Linked DNA regions of Homo sapiens. The protein of the gene in region 1 interacts with the protein of each later gene in a biochemical or structural test. Each region holds a gene or a part of one and is shown in the gene's direction. Other genes may lie near its edges.

Region 1 (3,829 bases):
GTCTCAGTTTGTATCACTTGAGTGATCTTCTGTCCTTTCAGAGATATCATTTACCTTTATAGCTTCGTCTGTCACCTTCATGAGATTAATTTTCAAATTTCTAGGCAGGTCTTGTTTTTCCACCTCCAGAAACATATTTAACTATTGGCTAGAAATTTCAACTTGGCTATCCCATATCATTTAAAACCAAACTTAACAAAAATGAAAGAAAACCAAATTATCAACCTTTCCCCAAAACTGACTTCCTTTTCTGACTTTCCTGCCTTTGTTTATTTATTTATTTATTTATTTAAATTTTTATTTTTTTAATAGAGAAAAGATTTTGCCATTTTGCCCAGGCTGGTCTCAAACTCCTGAGCTCAGGTGATCCACCCGCCTCAGCCTCCCAAAGTGCTAAGATTACAGGCATGAGCCACTGAGCCCAGCTGTTTCCTACCTTTATTAATGGTTTCAAAAGTTGGTTTCCAGACTCAAAATGAGTTGTTATTGAAACTTTTCTCCATTATCATTCATATCCAGTTTGTCACTAGGGCCCACTTCAAATGTTATTTTTGTCTTTGCACTATCACTCCATACTATATTTTAAACTTCTTGAGGACAGAGACAGTATATTATGCTTCCTTACATTCTTGCAATTTTTAACCAGTAACATATACATGATATATTGAAAGATTTTAACTTGAATGAAGTGAAGGAATCAGGGTTCCTTCTTTCTCCTTTTCTCAAAGGTACTGCTAAAGTCAGACAGCCCAACAGGTGATGTTTTACTGGATGAAACTCTGAAACACATCAAAGCAACTGAACCCACAGAAACTGTCCAAACATGGATAGAGCTACTCACTGGTAAGATGACTTAAAATAATATATGAATTTCACACTTTGTTATCTTTATCCTACCCTGAAATTTAGTAAAAGATGTACCGAAATTCATCGTGCTGGATGAGATAGATGTGGTTCACTATTTAATTCTAATGAGGGACAGAAAAAGCATGGTTAATTGATACCTAAAGTTTTCCAAAGCTTCACCTTATCTTCTGCCACCCCACCCCAAAAGCCCTTAAATAGTATTCTTCACAAGAAACTTTTAAAACATCTTTATTGAGAGGACAATGAGAATATTGGCATTGATGCAGTCTATTATTCTTATTAGAATTTCCCAGTTTTAATTTGCCAAATAATATTTTATTGCATGGCCATACCACATTTGTTTATCCAGTCATCAGTTGATGAATCTTTGAGTTATTTCCACATTTTGGGTATTGTGAATAATGCTGCTGTGAACACGCACGGACAAGTTTTTGTTTGAACATGTTTTCATTTCTTGTGGGTATGTAGCTAGGAGTAGATAACTGGGTCATATGTAAATCAACGAGTAACATTCTTACTGTGGTAAAATATACATAACATTTATTATTATTATTATTATTTCGAGATGGAGTCTTGCTCTGTCGTCCAGGCTGGAGTACAGTGATGCAATCTCAGCTCACTGCAACCTCTGCCTCCCGGGTTCAAGCAATTCTCCTGCCTCAGCCTCCCAAGTAGCTGGGATTACAGGCACGTGCCACCACGCCTGGCTAATTTTTGTATTCTTAGTAGAGACAGGGTTTCACCATATTGGCCAGGCTTGTCTCGAACTCTTGACTTCGTGATCTGCCCGCCTTGGCCTCCCAAAGTGCTGGGATTACAGGCGTGAGCCACCGCGCCCAGCCAACATTTATTATTATTTTAGCCATTCTTAAGTGTACAATTCTGTGAAATTAAATATATTTGCAATATTTTGTAACCGTCACCTCTATCTATACTATACCCAAAGCTTCCTCATCATTACCCATTAAAACTCTGTACCTATTAAATGATAACTTCCTCTTTCTCTCTCCCCCCAGTCCCTGGCAACCTCTATTCTACTTTCTTTTTCTATGAATTTGCTTACTCTAGGTACCTCATATAAGTAGAATCATACAATATCTGTCATTACTTTCCCTAGCTTATTCACCAAGCATAATGTTTTCAAGGTCCATTCATGTCACAGCATATATCAAAATTTCATTCCTGTTTATGGCTGAGTGATATTCCGTTGTATGTATATAACACTTTCGTTTAACCATTCATCTGTTGATGGACACTTGCCTTGTTTCCACCTTTTGGCTATTGTGAATAATGCTGCTGTGAACATTGATACACAAATATCTGTTCAAGTTCCTGTTTTTAATTCTTTTGGATATATACCTAGGAATAGAATTGCTGGGTCATATAGCAGTTTTATGTTTAACCTTTTGAGAAATCACCAAACATTTCCACAGAGACTGCACCATTTTATATTCCCACCAGTATGCACCAGGGTTCCAATTTGTCCACATGCTGATCACCACTTGTTCTTCTCTTTCTTTTCTTTTTTTTAATTATAGACATCCGAGTAGGCCTAAAATGTTATCTCATTGTGGTTTTGATTTTTATTTTCAAATGAAAATAGTTTTCATGTCATTCCTAATGACTAAAAATATTGAGCATATTTTTATGTGCTTACTGACCATTTATATATCTTCTTTGGAGAAATATAAAATACTTTTCCCATTTTTAAGTTTGATTGTTTTGTTGTTGTTGAGGTTTTTTTGTATTTATTTATGAGATGCGGTCTCACTCTGTCACCCAGGATGGAGTGCCGTGGTGCAATCTCGGCTCACTGCAACCTCTATCTCCCGGGCTCAAGGATCCTCCCACCTCAGCCTCCCAAGTAACTGGGACTATGGGTGCGCACCATCACACCTGGCTAATTTTTTGTGTTTTTGGTGGAGATGGGGTTTTGCTATGTCACCCAGGCTGGTCTCTGAACTCCTGAGCTCAGACAGTCTACCCATCTTGGTCTCCCAAAATGCTGGGATTACAGGCATGAGCCACTGTGCCTGGCCAGAGGTTCTTTATATATATTCTGGATATTAATCTTGCCGAGACCAGCTCAGTTGTGGAGACCCTAACCCAGTGGCGCTAGAGGAATTAAAGACACACACACACAGAAATATAGTGTGGAGTGGGAAATCAGGGGTCTCACAGCCTTCAGAGCTGAGAGCCTTGAACAGAGATTTACCCACATATTTATTGACAGCAAGCCAATCATAAGGTTTACTAAAAGTATTCCTTATGGGAAATAAAGGGATGGGCCGAAATAAAGGGACGGGCTCTGGCTAGTTATCTGCAGCATGAACATGTCCTTAAGGCACGGATCTCTCATGCTATTGTTTGTGGTTTAAGAACACCTTAAGCAGTTTTCCGCCCTGGGTGGGCCAGGTGTTCCTTGCCCTCATTCCAGTAAACCCACAACCTTCCAGCATGGGCATCAAGGCCATCACAAGCATGTCACAGTGCTGCAGAGATTTTGTTTATGGCCAGTTTTGGGGCCAGTTTATGGCCAGATTTTTGAGGCCTATTCCCAACACGTCCCCCTTCTTTGTTTTACAAAGCAATAAAAGCAAAGGCAGCTTTGTCAAGGTGAGCTACTTCTCACAGAAGTCAGGATCCACACCTGCAGACTATACAGAGACAAACAACACAGATTAATAACACAATTATCATTGAAATCAAAGGGCTTCCAAGTGTTTTTATCCATTTTAATGGGTTACTAGCTGTTAATCTGTCTGCAGCTCCTTCAAGCACTCCAGTTCCTGGCATTAAGGTCAGGTGTGCCTGGGATGCTTTAAATATTTGTTCTTTTAATTTTGCAATATCCAAAGACAAGTTTGTAGAGTGTCCTTTTAGATGGTTTTTTATTCTTTCCCAAATTTGGATCTTATTAAGAGCCATTAATAGTTTCCACAAATCCTTATGTTTAGCTCCT
Region 2 (3,829 bases), on another chromosome or scaffold:
AGTACAATTTTTAATATTCTGGTTCTTTTTTTTTTTTTTTTTTTTTTTTTTTTTTTAACAGTCACTGTTCTTTTCATCCTGTCAATTAGTAGGCCACTTCCAGGTTAGGCATTCAGTAAATCTTTCAGCTTATATGGAGAGACAGCCTCCATATGTACAAAACTACTTGAGTATTGCTAAGGTAACATTTTAGAGCCCTGTCTTTGTACCTTAATAGCCTACAAGCCCCTTCTGACCCTAGAAATAGAAAAGACTAGTGTGCGTTTTGCCTTTCCTTAGAAGAAATTGGCAATGATGCCTTTACAGAGCAATCAAGATCAGATACTATGAGAGTTAAGTATGTTTTTCTGGCTTTCTGATTTTGTTTTGTTCTTATTTTTTATGTGTTTGTTTGGAACTTTCGTATTGAGGTATAGCATACAAACAGTACATACAGTCAAGTATGTGGTGTTACTACTCAGATTGAGATATTAGATCTTAGCTCTCTAATGCTTCAGTATACCCTATCAGAGATGACCATTTTTTTTTACTATATAATTTTTAACCTATTCAATGTAATATTTTATTAGGTAAAAAGCTGCTTTTTTCAAGACTTTAGGAGTCTTGAATCCCCATGAAATGCATTTTTAAAAAGCATGGGCTGGGCATGGTAGCTCACACCTGTAATCCCAGCACTTTGGGAGGCTGAGGCAGGCAGATCACTTGAGGCCAGGAGTTCGAGACCAGCCTAGCCAACATGGCGAAACCCCGTCTCTAGTAAAAATACAAAAATTAGCGGGTGTGGTGGCATGTGCCAGTAGTCTCAGATTTGGGGGTGGCTGAGGCACGAGAATAACTTGAACCCAGGAGACAGAGGTTGCAGTGAGCCAAGATTGTACTGCTACACTCCAGCCTGGGTGACACAGCAAGACTCTATCTCAATTAAAAAAAAAAAAAAAAAAAAGTATGTTATAGTACAGGGATGGTGTATTTATCCAGGATGATTTTACTCCTTATGTTTCTAAATGTTATTGCTTATCTTATGCTCATGTAAGGTAATTAAAAAACTAATTAACATTTCAATTTTAAAAAGGTATATAGCTGTCCCTTTAATGTGGTCACATGATAATTATTACTTAAGTTAGGTTTTATCCGCTTTTAAGTAAGTATGTGTAGAACTGAAGTCCAAATATACTGCTTGTGCTTTTTTATTCTGGGAAAAAAAACTATCAAATTACTGTATGTTTTTTCTTTTTGTTTTAAGAAGTCAGCACTCTAAATAATTGTATTAATCAAGTGTTGTGATTGTTTCTAAAGGTGTTACTAATGGATTGAGAGGCCAGTCTGTTTTAGTTGTGATTTTGTTATTACCTGGTTGTTTCACCTTGAGCAGAACCGTTAACTTCAGTGTATCTTAGTTTCCTCATTTAGAAAATTTAAGAAGTTGGATGACGTATTCTCCAGCTGTTCCAATGACAGGAATCATGATTCTGAATACATAGTAATTCTCCTCCTTTGACAAAGAGAAGGCAAGGAAAAGCTAAGACATGAGATTCCATTATCAGTAATGTTATTCCTGTAAGTGTGTGCACATATGCACACACATATGTATGTTTGCCTGTGTATTTCTTGTGACTTGATTTAACATGTGGTCTGTTCTACCTCTCAACAGTGGAAAAATGACTATCTCTAATGGATTAACAGATTTTTTTCCCTCTTTCGTGTGTATTTTGAGGCTCTTAGTCGGGACATTGTCATAGTTACTTAAGTTTTCAACTTTAACTTGTGCCAAAACTCATCTTAAGAAATTTTTAAAATTAAATAGTGATTATTAGGGTAAATATATGCAGTACATATATAGTATACAATATATGCAATACATATATAGTATAGGTGACTAAGATGTATAAGAAAAATTTGGAAATTAAGAACCATGTTTAAAAAGGATACAGACCGGGCGTGGTGGCCCACACCTGTAATTTCAGCACTTTGGGAGGCTGAGGGGGTGGATCACTTGAGGTCAAGAGCTCGAGATTAGCCTGGCCAACATGCTGAAACCCTGTCTGTACTAAAAATACAAAAATTAACCTGGTGTGGTGGCAGGCACCTGTGGTCCCAGCTACTCAGGAGGCTGAGACAGGAGAATTGCTTGAACCCGGGAAGCGGAAGTTGCGGTGAGCTGAGATTGCACCATGGCACTCCAGCCTGGGCAACAGAGCGAGACTGTGTCTCAAAAAAAAAAAAAAAAAAAAAGGCTACCAAAATAATGCCAGTTTTACCTTTTTTTTTTTTGAAATGGAGTCTCACTGTGTTGCCCAGGCTGGAGTGCAGTCATGTGATCTCAGCTCACCGCAACCTCCGCCTCCCAGGGTTCAAGTGATTGTCGTGCCTCAGCCTCCTGAGTAGCTGGAACTACAGGCATGTGCCACCGCACCTGGCTAATTTTTGTATTATTAGTAGACGCGGGATTTCACCATATTGGCCAGGCTGGTCTCGAACTCCTGACCTCGTGATCTGCCCGCCTCAGCCTCCCAAAGCGCTGGGACTACAGACGTGAGCCACCGCGCCCAGCATAGTTTTATCATTTTTAGAATCTTTATTCCTATCATTGCTATGGCTGTAGTTTTCAATTCCTATATCATCTCTTTCATAAAGACATATATCTTGTTATTTAATCATAGGGAGGCAGTATGAGTGTGATATTTAAGGACTGAGACACTACAACCAGACTCTTTGGGTTCAAATTCCAGTTCTATAACTTATCAGTTCTGTATCTTTGGCAGCTTACTTAACCCCGCTGTGCCTTAGTTTTCTTATCTGAAGTAGAGACAAAATAGTACTTGCTTCAAGTCCTTCCCAGGGTTGTTGTGAGCATTGAATGAGTATTACATGTTAATCACTAAGAAGAATGCTTTTTATGAAATATAAAGTAAGCTATTACAGTATATTGAAATGCTATTGTGAAATCAGATTTCTGTTTTTAGAGAAGTTCTGAAATAATGTTTCTTTTCACTAATTGTCCTAGTTTCCTAATGGAAGTTGGCTTTCTAGAAAGTAACAAATAATTGATACAAGATTATGATGGTGTTAATGAGTTTTTAAAACAGTATTCTAACCAGAATATGAACACTGTTCTAATTTAAGTGACATAATATTGTTCAAAAATGTCTTCGTGTAGATTGTTTTAACAGCTCTTTTGAGCTCTAATTGAAATGCAATAAACTGTATATAATTAAAGTATACAATTTGATTAGTTTTGATGAATATATATACACTCACCTATGAAACCACCACAACTGAAGCCGTAAGTATATCCATTACCTCCAAAAGTTTCGTCATGTCTGTCAGTGATCCTTCCTTCCCACTTCTCCCTGCCTCATTACAAGGCACTGCTGATATTTTCTGTCACTCTATATTTGTTTATAATTTCTCGAGCAACCTTGTCCAGTCTGCTGCCTGTGGGCCTCATATAGCCCAGGATGGCTTTGACTGCAGCCCAATGCAAATTAGTAAACTTTCTTAAAACATTATGAGATTTTTTTGCAATTTTTTTAGGCTTATCAGCTCTGGTTAGTGTTAGTGTATTTTATGTGTGGCCCAAGATAATTCTTTTTCCAGTGTGGCCCAGGGAAGCCAAAAGATTGGACACCCCTGTTCTAGAGCTTAAAAAATACTATATATGGAATCATACAGTGTATATTTTTTTGGTGGTCTGACTCTTTTCATTCAGTATAATTATTCTGAGATATAGTCATGCTATTACTTGTAACAATAGTTCATTCCTTTTTATTGCTGAGTAGTAAGTAGTCTGTTGTATTTATATACTACAATTTGTTTGTCCACTCACCTG

The links.
Region 2: the proteins of GOLPH3L (region 1) and EBAG9 form a complex in vitro, tested with the Homo sapiens proteins (one study listed by BioGRID).

What each region holds. Positions count from the first base shown.
Region 1 is NC_000001.11:150,658,828-150,662,656, reverse strand, and holds part of GOLPH3L (Golgi phosphoprotein 3-like), read left to right. Parts: intron 1-728; coding exon 729-843; intron 844-3,829. UniProt on the Homo sapiens protein: Phosphatidylinositol-4-phosphate-binding protein that may antagonize the action of GOLPH3 which is required for the process of vesicle budding at the Golgi and anterograde transport to the plasma membrane.
Region 2 is NC_000008.11:109,543,111-109,546,939, forward strand, and holds part of EBAG9 (receptor-binding cancer antigen expressed on SiSo cells), read left to right. Parts: intron 1-3,829. UniProt on the Homo sapiens protein: May participate in suppression of cell proliferation and induces apoptotic cell death through activation of interleukin-1-beta converting enzyme (ICE)-like proteases.